Homo sapiens: one gene and its partner. The protein of the gene in region 2 interacts with the protein of the main gene of each other region in a biochemical or structural test. Each region holds a gene or a part of one and is shown on either strand. Other genes may lie near its edges.

Region 1 (7,694 bases), on a different chromosome or scaffold from region 2:
TTCAGAGGTGCTGGGGCATAAGCATCAGTTCCCCAGACACAGCACCAGCTCTGGCACATCGTGGTCACATGTTAGCTTTTTTTTTTTGCGATGGAATCTTGCTCTGTCACCCAGGCTGGAGTGCAGTGGTGCAATCTCGGCTCACTGCAACCTCCACCTCCTGGTTTCAAGCGATTCTTCTGCCTCAGCCTGAGTAGCTGGGATTACAGATGCATGCCACCATGCCCAGCTAATTTTTGTATTTTTAGTAGAGAAGGGGTTTCACCATATTGGTCAGGCTGGTCTCGAACTCCTGACCTCGGGTGATGCACCCACGTCGGCCTCCCAAAGTGCTGGGATTACAGGCGTGAGCCACCGCGCCCAGCCAAGCTCTCTGTTGATATACAAATGTCAGGCTTGGGAGGCAAGGAAGATGCAGTCCCTCTATTCTAGGGGCTTACAATTGCTATGGGTGGGGAATAGCAATATATTCCTAAAAATAGTGGGATGGATTAAAATAAATTTCAAGATGTAGAAGTGACAGAAATCAGGAATAGATGAGATGTGGGTGTTGAGAGCAAAGGGGGCACCTTCACATTTTGGGGCTTAACTGTGAGTGACGTGAGGGCCGGGGACATGCTGGCCTTCTCCACTGCTGATGCCTTTGCTTAGCACATGATCTGGCCTGGTAAATACCAAATGGAAGAATGAACAAATGAATGAAGAAATGAAAGGGAGTGAGATGGGGCACAGCACGAATGGGAGAGCCAGGAATGTAAGATTTTTTTTTTCTTGCTGTATCCCTGGGACAGGGTCTGGCACACAGCACTCTGGAAATATCTGTGGAATGAATGAATGAAATTGCTAGCCTGTGAGTACTGTCAGGGCAGAAACCATGGCTGTCTTACTCCCAGCTGGGCTCCTGCTTAATAGGTGCTCAATTAATACTTGTTGACACCACATGAAGCTCTTCCATCTAGAAATGAGTCTTGCAGAATGTTCCCTTCTACCTGGCTCCATTATTTATTCAACCAACCAATCAACTTTGGAGAACCTATCAGGCAGCCTGGAAGCTTTTATATAAGCCACATCAATTTAATTCCTCCCTCATCTTTTCCAGTTTGCCTTGGCCAGCTCGGCCTATGAAGACTCCAGGAAATGGTTCTCAACTGGGGGTGATTCTGCCCCCCAGGGGACATTTGCAATGCCTGGAGACACTTTTGGTTGTCATAGCTGGGGAGAGGGGGCAGGGAATGCTAATGACATCTAGTGGGAAGAGGCTAAAGATGCCGCTAAGCAACTCACAATTTACAGGACAGCCCCTACAACAATGATCTGGCCTCAAGTGCCAATAGTGCTGGGGTTGAGAGACACTGACTCCAGACGGGGTAGGCTCTTTTTGTCTCTGCCTGGTGGACTCTGGCAGCATGGCTGGATGGCAAGCACCTTGAAGGCAGGCACTGCATCTGTCCTGTTCATGCAGGGAACGCAGGTGTTCATGGATACATGTTTACTGAGCGATTGTGACTCTGCAGCCTGGGAGGCAGGTAAGTCCTTCAACCTTTCTGAGCCTCCTTTTTCTCCCTTAAGGCAGGCAAGGCCTACCTCACCTTCACCCTGAAGGTATCATACTGCTGCCCCTTCTCACTCCAGGCACAGTGTCATCTGGTGTCCCTCACCCTGTTTCCCACCACCTAGGCCTGGCCTTGAGAGGTTCTGTGGAAGGAATTTTGGGGAGAGGACACCACTTACTGTTGATGGACTTGAGGTCCCGGTGGATGATGGGCACAGGGGCATCATTGTGTAGGTAGTTCATGCCCCGGGCCACCTGCACAGCCCAGTTGACCAGCACGTGAGGTGGCACCCGGCGACCTGCCAGCACCCTGCTCAGTGCACCACCCCGGGCATACTCCATCACTAGGCAGAGGTGTGGGGGGTTGAGGCAGGCGCCCCTAAGGGCAATTATGTTGGGGTGCTGCAGGGCTCCAAAGAGCCGGGCTTCCTGGCACACCTGCTCCGCTGTCACTGCCGGGTCCTTCTCAGGGTCCAGCCGGGCGGCCTTGACTGCCACCTCCTCGCCACGCCACAGGGCCCGATAGACCTTGCCAAAGCCCCCCACACCGATGATCTCCTCTAGCTGCAGCTCGTGGAAGGGGATCTCCTGGGGCAGCTGGAGGCCCGCGGGTGCAGCGGGGGCGCCGGGGGCCACGTAGTTGCTGGGGAAGACGCCCACGCGGCCGCTGGGGAGCTGCCCGGTCCACCAGCCCTCGTCGCCGGACACCGCACAGTCTTGGGAAAGCACCTGGACGCGATCGCCCCTCCGCAGGGTCAGCTCCTCGTCGCCCGCCGCCTCGTAGTCGAACACCGCGGTCCAGACGGGCCCCGCGGGGGTCGTGCCCCACTCCTTGGCCACCGCCCCCTCCTCCTCCTCCATGGGGGAGGGGCCGGGGGCTGCGGGAGGCCGCTTCACACAGGCTGCCCGCGGGATGCAGAGGGCGGGCCCCGGCGGCCGGGATGGAGGGCAGTCCCTGCGGGGTCTAGGGAGCTCCTGAGGGCCATGGCTGGGGCGCCCTCCGCAGGAGCAAGAAAAAAAACCCTTTCAAAGGGCAGGCTCGTCCCTTCCGATTTGGCTGTACGGGCGGGGCGGGGCGGGGTGGGAGTGGGGCGGCAGGTTCACCCGTGCCCCCCAAACGGCAGAGGGCTAAGAGGGCCTGGCCGCGCGGCTCTCGAATGCCCGCCGGGGTCCGCCGGTGGGGGACGAGGGCGAGGGCGGCAGGCAGTCCCCGTTCCCCGCGCCGCTCACCCCGCGCAGCTCCACCGGCGGCCCCCGGCTCCGCATCCCGGGCCACGACTGCCGGGCCGGGCGGGGGTGGCGGGGCCCCTGGGGCGGCCGCCCCGGGCCGGGGTGGCGCGCCCCTCGGCCTCCTCACGCGCGGGGCAGCCGGGCGGCCCCCATCCTTGGCACCGGCCTCCCGGTCGGCCCCAGCCCCTGCCCCCCGCCCGTGCTGCTTCCCCGGGCCACCGGCGGGGCCCGAGTGACGTGTGGGCGCCGCCGCCGCGGTGCCTCCTGGGAGTTGTAGTCTCCGGCCGTGCGGCCTCGGGGCCCGGCTCTCAGCGCCCTCCAGCAGAGCCCCGCGGCCAGCCTCGGGCCGCAATGGACATGACACCCCACGAAGCCGAAGGAGTCCTCCCGGGGAGATGAGCCCGGCCTCGGCCCCTCCTTCGGACGCGGCGTAGCGGGCGCCCGGGGCGGGGGGAAGCGCTCCTCACAGACCCTGTGGGGGCCGCGGCCCAGGATGGGTTGGACTGCAACGGACGCGATTAGCAACGCGAAAAATAGGAGCTGCGTGCATGACTGTGACTGCCCGGAGCCGCGAACGCAGCCTGGACCTTATCCCTGAGGCAGGACGGCCCCTCGGACCCCCCGACCGAGATGTACGCTGGGAACTGTAGTCCGCGCGGGGACCTGGCGCTGCAGGGGGCGGCCCCCAAACAGCGGGCTGCGGGCGTCGGCGGGTGGTTGGAGCAAGTTAGGGGTCGGGCCGGTGGCGGGACTCTGCGGGGAAGATGGGGCTGGGAGGATGTGTTTAGTGTCCCTGGGGATGTCACAGCCACGTCTGCTTTCCCCACCAGCTCTGGGTTCCTCTGCTGAAGTCAGAACTCCTGCTCTTGAGAATCCCCGATTCCTATTTTATAGGAGTTTCAATTTCGGGGAGCTTAATGTGCATGTTGTATTCAGTGCTTTGTACACGTGGTATCGTTAAGTCTTCACAAAGAGCCCCATTTTACAGATGACTCATAGAGAAGTGAAGTCATTTGTGCAAGGCTACAGAGCTATAAATGGCAAAGCAAAAATGAAAGGCAGTTTTAAAAATTAACAACCAGGCCGGGCGCGGTGGCTCACGCCTGTAATCTCAGCGCTATGGGAGGCCAAGGCGGGCGGATCACGAGGCCAGGAGTTCGTGACCAGCCTGGCCAGCATGGTGAAACCCCCGTCTCTACTATTTAAAAAAAAAAAAAAAAATTAGCCGGGCGTGGTGGTGTGCGCCTGTAATCTATCCCAGCTACTCGGGAGGCTGAGGCAGGAGAATCGCTTGAACCTGGGAGGTGGAGGTTGCAGTGAGCCAAGATCACGCCACAGCACTCCAGCCTGGACGACAGGGCAAGACTCCGTCTCAAAATAAATAAATAAATAAATAACCATCGCCACGATTAACAAAAACAACAACAACAAAAAAAAAAACAACAAAAAACAAACAAACAAAAAACCCACTGCCTTTCTATTTAAAGAATGAGGAAAGTAGGTCCCGCAGAGGTTCAGTGACTTCTTCAAGATCTCTAAGCTTGTAAGAGGCAAAATTCTGGGTCTTTTTACTTGGCCTCTCCTGAGTGGTATGGGGTCTAGAGGGAGGAGAGAAGAAGAGGAAATAAGAGGGACTCTAGTGCCCAAACTCCAGAGAACTGCCCCTCAGGGTCCTTGGGGAATTGTTCCATTGTCAGAGGGAAGTGGGTTACCTGGTCTCCTGGCTACCTAGCAGGGACACTCGGAGCATATCAAAAATGCTTGTTGGAAGAGAGAGCCCCAGCTTCATTCTGAGTATAAGTGTTTCTGCTATAACCTGCTATATGCATTCTTAAAAAACCTTCAGTTCTTCAAAACGGTGCACTAAAATTAACAAGACTTCATGGAAAAAATAGAGTTAGAGACAGATTGCTCAAAATATATGCAACTAGCTGGGCACGGTGGCTCATGCCTGTAATCCCAGCACTTTCAGAGGCCGAGGAGGGAGAATTACTGGAGTCCAGGAGTTTCAGACTAGCCTGGGCAACATAGGGAGACTCCGTCTCTACAAAAAAATAAAAAATTAGGCGGGTGTGGTGGTGTGCACCTGTGTTCCCAGCTACTCGGGAGACTGAGGTATAGGGGTATTACCTGAGCCCAGGAGGTCGAGGCTACTGTGAGCTGTGATTGTGGCACTGACTGCACTCCAGCCTGAGAGACAGAGCGAGACCCTGACTCAAAAAAAAAAAAGTAAAAATAAAAACCTGTATACAACTTTTTTTTTTTTTGAGATGGAGTCTCACTCTGTTGCCAGGCTGGAGTGCAGTGGCACGGTCTTGGCATACCACAACCTCCGACTCCCTGGTTCAAGTGATTCTCCTGCTTCAGCCTTCCGAGTAGTTGGAATTACAGGTGGGCGCCACCATGCCCAGCTAATTTTTGTATTTTTAGTAGAGACAGGGTTTCACCATGTTGGCCAGGATAGTCTCGATCTCCTGACCTCGTGATCCGCCCGCCTTGGCCTCTCAAAGTGCTGGGATTACAGGTGTGAGGCACCATGCCCGGCCTCTTGTATACAACTTTATATTCAGAGTGCTACAAAACCAATAATGATGCTAATAGAAACACTAGAATAGGTAAATTTCCATGAGCATTTGCTTTCAGCAGCACTTTGCAGCCTTGAAGGTGGGGCTTATGCTTCCTCTTTGGGGATGCTGGTTGGAGATATTAACTATTGATGGGGATCATTTTCATCAAAACTCGAAATGTGATCCAAGGTGTGATCTTTTTCATTAATCTGTTATTTTAATATGGGAGAAATATATTTGCAATTTCTTCATCTGCATTCATGGATTTGCCATAGGCATAACACTGTGACAAATATGGTGGTCTTTGAAGTCACTAAACCAGCCACCGTGGATCCAAAGGAAGACACTTCTGTAGATTTGCAGCTTTTTCCTCTGAAGATCTTCTTTTAGTACTAAGGCTTCCCCTTTAACTGTGAGAAAGCTTGGCCCTGATTGCTTCAAAATGTTAACTTCCTGGAGAAAATTGCATGTTAACCAACATGCTTGTGTTATGCTGACATCATTACTCTGTTTACCAATCATTTATGGGGTGATTCATCTCAAAGAAGCAAATAGAGGGTGGGGGCGGTGGCTCACACACCTGTAATCGCAGCACTTTGGGAGGCTGAGGCAGGCAAATCACCTGAGGTCAGGAGTTTGAGACCAGCCTGGACAACATGGTGAAACCTCATCTCTACTAAAAATACAAAAATTAGCCAGGCGTGGTGGCAGGTGCCTGTAATCTCAGCTACTCAGGAGGCTGAGGCAGGAGAATCGCTTGAACCTGGGAGGCGGAGGTTGCAGTGAGCCGAGATCGAGCCAGTGTACTCTAGCCCGGACGACAGAGGGAGACTCTGGAAGAAGCAAATGGGCTGCAGAACAGGTTGTCTCTGGGCCCGGTGCGGTGGCTCACGCCTGTAATCCCAGCACTTTGGGAGGCCAAGGCGGGTGGATCACAAGGTCAGGAGTTCAAGACCAGCCTGGCCAACATGGTGAAACCCTGTCTCTACTAAAAATACAAATTTAGTCAGGGCATGGTGGCAGTCACCTGTAATCCCAGCTGCTCGGGAGGCTGAGGCAGGGGAATCGCTTGAACCGGGTGGCAGAGGTTGCAGTGAGCCGAGATTGCGCCACTGCACTCCAGCCTGGTGACAGAGTGAGACTCCATCTCAAAAAAAAAAAGAAAAAAAATTATCTTGGATTTGGCTGCCTTGTTGAACTCACTCTTGCTTGTTCTAGAATAGCTTGACAGATAATTCTCTTCGATTTTCTAGCTAGATGATCCTGTTGTCCAGAAAAAAGAAAAAAATTACAGCTTTAAAAAATCTGATGTCTATGCTTTTTTTCTTAATCCTCTCCTCTTTGGCTAGGAGTTCCAATACAATGTTGAATGGCAGTGGTATTAATGGACAATTCTTGTCTTGTCCTAGACATTTAAGGGAATGATCCTAAGGTTTCATCATTAAATATGATGCTTTCAGTAGATTTCTAGTAGAAGTCCTTTATCAGGTTCTATTCCTAACTTGCTAGAGATTTTTCTTTCTTTCTTTCTTTCTTTCTTTTTTAAATGCAGGTGTTACATTTTATCAAATGCTTTTTATGCATTTATTTATGCAATCAGATGGTTTTTCTGCCTTTAATCCATTAATGTTGATTATCTCCTCTTTCTTGCTTTCACCATTGCTGGATTTGATTTAATAATACTTTATTTAGGGTTGTTTTGCATTTCTTTTCTTTTCTTTTCTTTTTTTTTTTTTTTTGAGACAGCCTTGCTGTGTCATCCAGGCTATAGTGCAGTGGTGATATCTCAGCTCACCCACCTCCTGGGTTCAAGCGATTCTCCCACCTCAGCCTCCAGAGCTGAGACTATAGGCGCATGCCACTGTGCCCAGCTAATTGTTACATTTTTAGTAGACATGGGGTTTTGCCATGTTGGCCGGAGTGGTCTCCAAATCCTGGCCTCAAGGAATCCACCTGCCTTGGCCTCCCAAGGTGCTGGGATTACAGGCATGAGCCACTGTGCCTGGCCTGCATTTGTTTTCATAAATGGAATTTTCTGGTGTTATTCTTGCCTAGTTTTGACATTGGCGGAATGCTAGCCCTATTCAATGAGTTGGGGAGCTTTTTTTTTTTTTTGTGGTGAGAACACTTAAGACCTACCCTTATAACAAATTTCAAGTATACAATAAAATCTTATTAACGATAGTCGTGTCATTGTACATTAGATCTCTAGAACTTATTCATCTTGCATAACTGATATTTTGTATCCCTTGACTAATATCAAGTCAACTTTTTATTTTTTAATCTTTTTTTAAGATGGAGTCTCGCTCTGTCGCCCAGGCTGGAGTGCAGTGGCACAATCTTGG
Region 2 (7,019 bases):
TTCCCTTTTACAGAAGGGAAAACTGAGGCCAATTCATTCAGTCATTTAGCAAACATTTGTGGAGGGTGCACGATGTCTCAGCACTGGGGATTCTATGGTGGAAAAGACCAAGACTCTGCACTGCAGAGGGAGAAACTCAGAAGACAACTGGAAAATGTGGTGAACGTCAGGGAGGGGAGTGGGGCTGCTCTCCCCAGGGAGGTCAGAGGTCTCCAGGAGGAGGTGGCATCTGAGATGAGAACCAAGGGATGAGAAGCTGTGTAACTTGCCAGGGGCGGGAGAGTTCCAGGCCAAGGGAAAGGTGCAAAGGCCCCGGGGTAGCAAAGAATTTGGTGCCTTTGAAGAACAGAAAGGAGACCCTGTAGCTGGTATTCAGCTAGCAAGGGGGAGACAGGACCTGAGAGATAGGCAGGGGCTAGATCTACAAAGCCCTTAGGCCATGAGGAGTGAGGAGTTTGGGTTTATTTTCTCTCTTGTGGGAAGCTTTTTAGTAGTGGAGTGATGAGCTAATTCTAGCAAGGGTGTGACTTGGGGAGCGGGTGAGGGAAAAGGCAGGAGACTGGTGGGGAGGCTGCTGCAGTGGGCAGGGGGTAGTGGGGGGCCTGGACAAGGGCTTCAGCTGCAACCAGAAGGAGAATGGTGGGTGGGTTTCAGGATATATTTTAGAGGAAGTCCTGCTGGAGGATGAATGTGGAGGGTGAGGAAAGAGGAATCAATGATGACTTCTGGGACTTTGACCTGAGCTCCTGGGTGGGTGTTGGTGCCATTAACAGAGTCGGGAAGAGTAAGGAGGAGCAGACTGGGGGGATGGGGGAAGACCAGGGTTTGGTTCTGAACATATTGAGCCTGAGATGCCTGTTAGACTTCTAAGTGGAAGATGTCAGCTGGCAGTTTGGTGATGCAAGTTGAGAGCTCAGGGGGAAGACGGGCTGGAAGTAAAAATTTGGAAGTCGTTGGTGTAGAGATGGGATTTAAACCCGAGAGTAGATGAGCTCATCCTGGGGGTAAGTGTAGATGGGGGAGTGTTTGTGGACCCAGCACACACCAGCCTTTCATGAACAGATGCCTGGTGCCCTAGGCCAAAGGGGCCTCCTCGCTGTCCCTCCAGCTCCTCTTTGTCACCCCCGCCCCGCTACACCCCCCACCCCAGTGCTCCTCTAGGGCCAAGAGTGGGTTGTCCTAGGGCAGGCCAAGTCTGGTGGGAATGTGGCAGAGGGGCCGAGAGCATGGTGTGGAGTCAGACCTGCCGAGTATGAAGCTCAACTCTGCCACTTACAAGCAGAGAAACCCTGGGCATGTTCCCCAAACCCTGCCCAGCTGCTATTTCCTCATCTGTAAAATGGGGATAATAATAGCACATCCCTTGTGAGATTATGGTGAGTGTTGAAACAATCCCCAGGAAGCACTCGGGGCAGGGCCTGGCATGGAGGACGCGCTGCTTCTATCCCTGCCTGGGCGTAGACAGGCAAGCCCTCTGGGATGGCGTGGGCTGGGAGGTGCACCAGGATGGGGGCACGGGTTGGGGATCTTCTCCATCCAGGGTAGGGTAGGGGTCCTGAGGAGCGACCCTCTGCCCAGAGCCGAAGGAGCAGCCTGGGAGGAAGGGTTTTAGGTTTCCCCGTAACTCTGCCTACCCCCCACCCCCAGGCTTTCTGTCTCCCCCAATGCCCTTGTCCCTTCCTCCCCATTCTTTTTTTTCTTTTTTTTTTCTTTTTTTGAGATGGAGTCTCACTCTGTCACCCAGACTTGGAATGCAATGGCGCGATCTCAGCTCACTGCAACCTCCACCTCCCAAGTTCAAGTGATTCTCCTGCCCTAGCCTCCCAAGTAGCTGGGATTACAGGCATGTACCACCACGCCCGGCTAATTTTTGTATTTTTAATAGAGATGGAGTTTCATCATGTTGTCCAGGCTGGTCTCAACTCCTGACCTCCAGTGATCCACCCACCTCAGCCTCCTAAAGTGCTGGGATTACAAGTGTGAGCCATAGCACTCAGCTCTCTGCTCTGCATTCTATCCCAGCATGGACGTGATGCTGGTCTCTGGACTCTGAGAGCCCTTCTCTTTGTCAAACCTAGCCTTTCCCAGGGGAGACAGCCCCCTCCCCACTATTAAGCTCTGTCTCTTCCTCTGAACACACCAGGATGCATCATAGTGGTCCCATTTCTCAGATTTGGAGATGGAGGCCAAAGTCTATTAGGGGATAAATGAGACATCCTAGGCAGAGTATCGATGACCTGGATGGGGCAGAGGGAACTAATATTTCCTTGGCACTTGCTGTGTGCCAGGCCCTGAGGATACAGTTGTGAGTCAGCCAGACCCATCCTGCTTGGGGAGGCTTGCGGCTGATCGGGGCAGACAGACATGAAATCCACAAAGAGCACGTTTGTCGTGTATTTTGAAGGAGGCTGCTCCTGCGTTGCAAGGAGCCTGACATTGAGGGGAGGGGGGCTTTCTGGGCCATCAGAAGGCCTCCTGAGGAGGTAGCATTTAAGATTGGACCTGAGCAAGACTAGGACGTGGTCAAGCCAAGGTGTGGACTTCCGCAGGTGCAGGGACTGTCCTGAGCAAAGAGTTAGGGGGAAAAGAGCCCAACGGGTTTGAGAACCCGGATGAAGGATGAAGGGCAGTGTGGCTGAGTGAGGAGCAGAGGCCAGAGGTGAGACTAGGAGGGTTGGGGAGGCGGGGCTTGAGGGGCCTGTTAGGGGCCCTTTGACACCCCCCCACCCACCTGGAGAGCTGCCACACTCTGCTCCAGCCTCTGCATGCTCAGAGCACGCAGCTGCCACGTGCTAAGCACACACTGCCTGTGGGCCACATGTGGAGCACACCCCTGGGGCTGGAAACATGGAAATGCACCCATCCACAGCCAGAGGACATCCTCTCCAAACCCACACCCCACCGTGGCCCAGAGGAGCTGGGAGTGAAAGGTGACCCTGGCAGACAGCATCTGATCTCGGCGCCAGGAGAATTGAGTTTCCCAGGCCCTGGCTGGGTCAGAGGGTCGGACCCAGGGAAGGGGGTGCAGGTGGGAGAGTGGAGAGGGTGGGCAGGGCAGGAGTGGAGGAAGTGGGTCATGGACACAGTGCTGTCAGGCGTGGAGAAACGGACGCCCACATGCCATATGTCTATGTATTCCAGTTATAAATCAAGCTGAGGAATTGCTAAATGCAATACATTCTGCCCTCCCACCATAACAAACACACCTTCATCACAACCTGACCAGCTGGGTTTGAATTCAGAATTTCAGACTCCTTGGAGTTCCGTGGTGGATGTGGAGGCGTGGGGACAGGTGTCCCCTCTCCGCAGGCTGCCCCGTCATTTCCCTCTTTATCCCTCCAGGGTTCACTTGTGAACACCCCAGCCCTCATATCCCAGCTCCAGAAAGGACCCACCTTGGGCCTGGGCTGGTCCCCACTTGGGCCTGGGCGGTGGGCTTGGAACTGCTTGAGAGGGAATTCTGGGGCATCTGAGCGTAGCCTACGAGGGGAGCACAGGCTTCAGCTGGGCACCTCCCCTGGCCCCTGGGGAACTCTTTGCCCCATGGGGAGGGTGAAGCCAGAGGAGGTCCAGAGAGGGACCCCTAAGTGTAAGTCTCAGACTAAGGGCTCCATTCCCCAGGCCTAAGGGCAGTACTGATGTCTTCTATCATTCCAAGTTTTTGTTTTGTTTTGTTTTGTCTGTTTTGTTTTGTTTTGTTTTGTAAGACAGGATCTCACTCTGTCACCCAGGCTGGAGTGCAGTGGGGCGATCTTGGCTCACTGCAGCCTTGACCTCCCGGGCTCAAGCCATCCATCCTCCCACCTCAGCCTTCCGAGAAGCTGGGATGACAGGCATGTGTCACCACACCCAGCTAAGTTTTTTATTTTATTTTTTGTGGAGATGGGGTCTCACCATGTTGCCCAGGGTGGCCTCAAACTCCTGGACTCAAGTGATCCTCCCACTTTGGCCTTCCAACCAGGTTTTTATTTTATTTGTATTTATTTGGCATTATTATTATTATTATTATTATTATTATTAGAAACAGGGTCTTGCTCGGTCACCCAGGTTGGAGTGCAGTGGCACAATCTCAGCTCACTGCAACCTCCGCCTCCCAGGTTCAAGCAATTCTCCTACCTCAGCCTCCCAAGTAGCTGAGACTAACAGGCACCCGCCATCATGCCTGGCTAATTTTTGTATTTTTAGTAGAGATGGGGTTTCACCATATTGGCCAGGCTGGTCTCGAATTCCTGACCTCAGGTGATCTGCCCGCCTTGGCCTTGCAAAGTGCTGGGAATACAGGTGTGAGCCACCAGGTTTTTAGATGGCAAAAATGACACAGAGAGCGTAGGGAACCTGCCTAATGTCACACAGCAATTGAATCAGAGGCAGGCCAGGAACAGGCATGGGTCTCCTGCCTCCAGTCCACACTTTTCCATGTTTCTGTCTACCCTATTCCCCACCCCAGTCCCACCCATGTGTGCACACACCTACACACCTCAGTGTCTCCTCCTCTCCTCTTCCTGGGCGACTCTCTGGCACTCTTACCCATTCCCTGGAATGAAATCTGGCTAAGAAACAAGAATCATTTGGAGAAGTCAGCCCTGGCAACTTAGAATTACTATAAGCAACAGAAAAAAAAAAAGTAATATTGAGCTTGGAAGGTGTTCAAAATATTCTCCTGAATGGCATCTTCCCAGTGCCCTGGCCAGAGGCCCCAAGATCAACTGCCTGCCGGCTCCCCCATCCTCCCCATCTGACTTGGTCCCCATGCCCTGTGGATTCTGCCCAGTTCACTCCTGTCTACCTCAGACTCCAGCCCCTTTGTCTTAGCAGCAGAGGTAGTTTCCTCCCTTGCCCCCTAATCCATTCCCCGCCCGACAGCATGAAACTCTCTCCAGCCTCCCAATCTATCTTCCTAGCTTGAAGCCCTCTTTGGATTCCCTGCCCTCAAAACGGAACCCCACACCTGAGTTGGGCCCCTGAGGGCTGATTACCCAGTCCTGCTTCCTTTCAGCCGCTCCCTCCTGGTCTACCTGAATATATTACAGTGCGTGGGAAAAATAGGGCCGTGCCCTCTCTCTCACTCTCCTGGGGTGCTATTGCATATGCTGTTCTCTCGCCTGGAAGCCTCTTTTTTTTTTTTTTTTTTTTTTTTTTCTGTACAGACAGGGTCTTGTTATGTTACCCAGGCTGGTCTCAAACTTCTGGCCTCAAGCCAGGTCTCAAACTCCTGGCCTCAAGCTGGGGCTTGAACTCCTGGCCCCAAGCGATCCTCCCACCTCAGCCTCCCAAAGTATTGGGATTACAGGATTCCAGGTGGCTGGCCCCTGGAAAGCTCTTCACCCTGCCGTTGTCTTCCTCTTTCACTGGGTCTTTCCTCCAAGTGTCACATCAGCCAACACCTCCTCTGGGATGCCTTCTCTGATGACCCTCTCCTGCCATGACCTGGCCCTCCCTGTGTGGGGTGGGGCTTTGTTTTCTCCCAGATGGGAAGCTGTAGAGGAAGAAAGAAGCCCGTTGCCTTGGGCTCAGAGCTCCTGGCAGAGGGCGGCTCCAACCATGGTTAATATTAACAACGTATCTAGTCATGACTGTGTTATTCTTTAATCACTCTGTCTCATGTGCCTCTCTTCTTAGGTCAGGGAAAGGAGGCCACTAGCCAGGGTGGGGAGAAAAATCTCAGCGGGTGAATGCACCCTCACCCCCAACCTGGGTCCCCATTTCAAAGGAATGCAATGCTGTAGCACATAAAGCACCCAGCACATGGCACGTGCTCAGGAACTGGGACCTGCCAATGGGCACCCCCTGTTAGGTCCTTCCACAGCCAGGATCTCAGGGCATTCCCTCAGCAGCCCTAGGAGGCAGCTGCTGGCCTGTGTCCTATTTCACTGGTGGGCAAACTGAGGTTCAGAACAAGGAAATAATTTAGTGGCTGAGTTGGGGTTCCTTCTCATCAAGATGCTGGTGATAAGAAATAAGGATCCATAGCTGGGCATGGTGGTGCACACATGTAGTCCCAGCTACTTCGGAGATTGAGGTGGGAGGACTGCTTGAGCTCAGGAATTTGAGGCTGCAATGAGCTATGATCGTACCACTGCACTCCAGCCTGGGCAACACGGCAAGACCCGGCTGGAAGGAAGGAAGGAAGGAATCAAGGAAGGAAGGAAGGAAAGAAGGAGGGAAACAGAAAGAGGATCCAGATGTAGCTGCATAGTGAATAACTTTGGAAATGTCTATGATATGTTAGGTGAATAGAGAAGCTATCAAAGGGCTGATAACCCAGTGTGCATGTGAGCGCCTGAGAGGCATGTGATTTCACCTTTCTGAGTCTCAGTTTCTTCCCTGTAACATGGAGAAACTGATCACTCTGATTTCACACAGCCATGCAAGAATCGATCCAAAGGCTGTAGATTTTCTTAAACAGCTTTACTGAGGTATAATTTACATGCCATACCATTCACCCATTTTAAAGGCACAATTCAATGATCTTTGGTATATTCACAGAGTGGTGCAACCATCATCACTATCTAATTTTAGGATATTTCCGTCACCCTAAAAAGAAATCTTGTGCTGATGTAGATTTTCAAGTCCCTGGCAGAGTCCCTGGCTGACAGTCAGCAATTCATCAGTGTTTAGCCATGATGATGATGATGAATGATAAAATGTTTACAGTGGCTCCCATCAGGTGTTGGGATGACGATTGGTTTTTATTTTTTAAATATTTCACGTATTTTCTGGATCTTTTTGTTTGTTTGTTTGAGATAGAGTCTCACTCTGTCATCCAGGCTGGAGTACAGCGGCAGGATCTCAGCTCACTGCAACCTCCACCTCCCGGGTTCAAGCGATTCTCCTGCCTCAGTCTCCCGAGTAGCTGGGACTACAGGCGCACGCCACCACACCCTGCTAATTTTTGTATCTTTAGTAGAGATGGGGTTTCACCATGTTGGCCAGGCTGGTCTCAAACTCCTGACCTCAGGCGATCCACCCACCTCGGCCTCCCAAAGTGTTGGGATTACAGGAGTGAGCCACCGCACCTT

The links. The genes of interacting proteins can lie anywhere in the genome.
Region 1: the proteins of DNM1 (region 2) and MAP3K10 form a complex in vitro, tested with the Homo sapiens proteins (one study listed by BioGRID).

Annotation. Positions count from the first base shown.
Region 1 is NC_000019.10:40,186,751-40,194,444, reverse strand, and holds the start of MAP3K10 (mitogen-activated protein kinase kinase kinase 10), read right to left. Parts: upstream 3,020-7,694; 5' UTR 2,414-3,019; coding exon 1,732-2,413; intron 1-1,731. UniProt on the Homo sapiens protein: Activates the JUN N-terminal pathway.
Region 2 is NC_000009.12:128,206,360-128,213,378, forward strand, and holds part of DNM1 (dynamin-1), read left to right. Parts: intron 1-7,019. UniProt on the Homo sapiens protein: Catalyzes the hydrolysis of GTP and utilizes this energy to mediate vesicle scission and participates in many forms of endocytosis, such as clathrin-mediated endocytosis or synaptic vesicle endocytosis as well as rapid endocytosis (RE).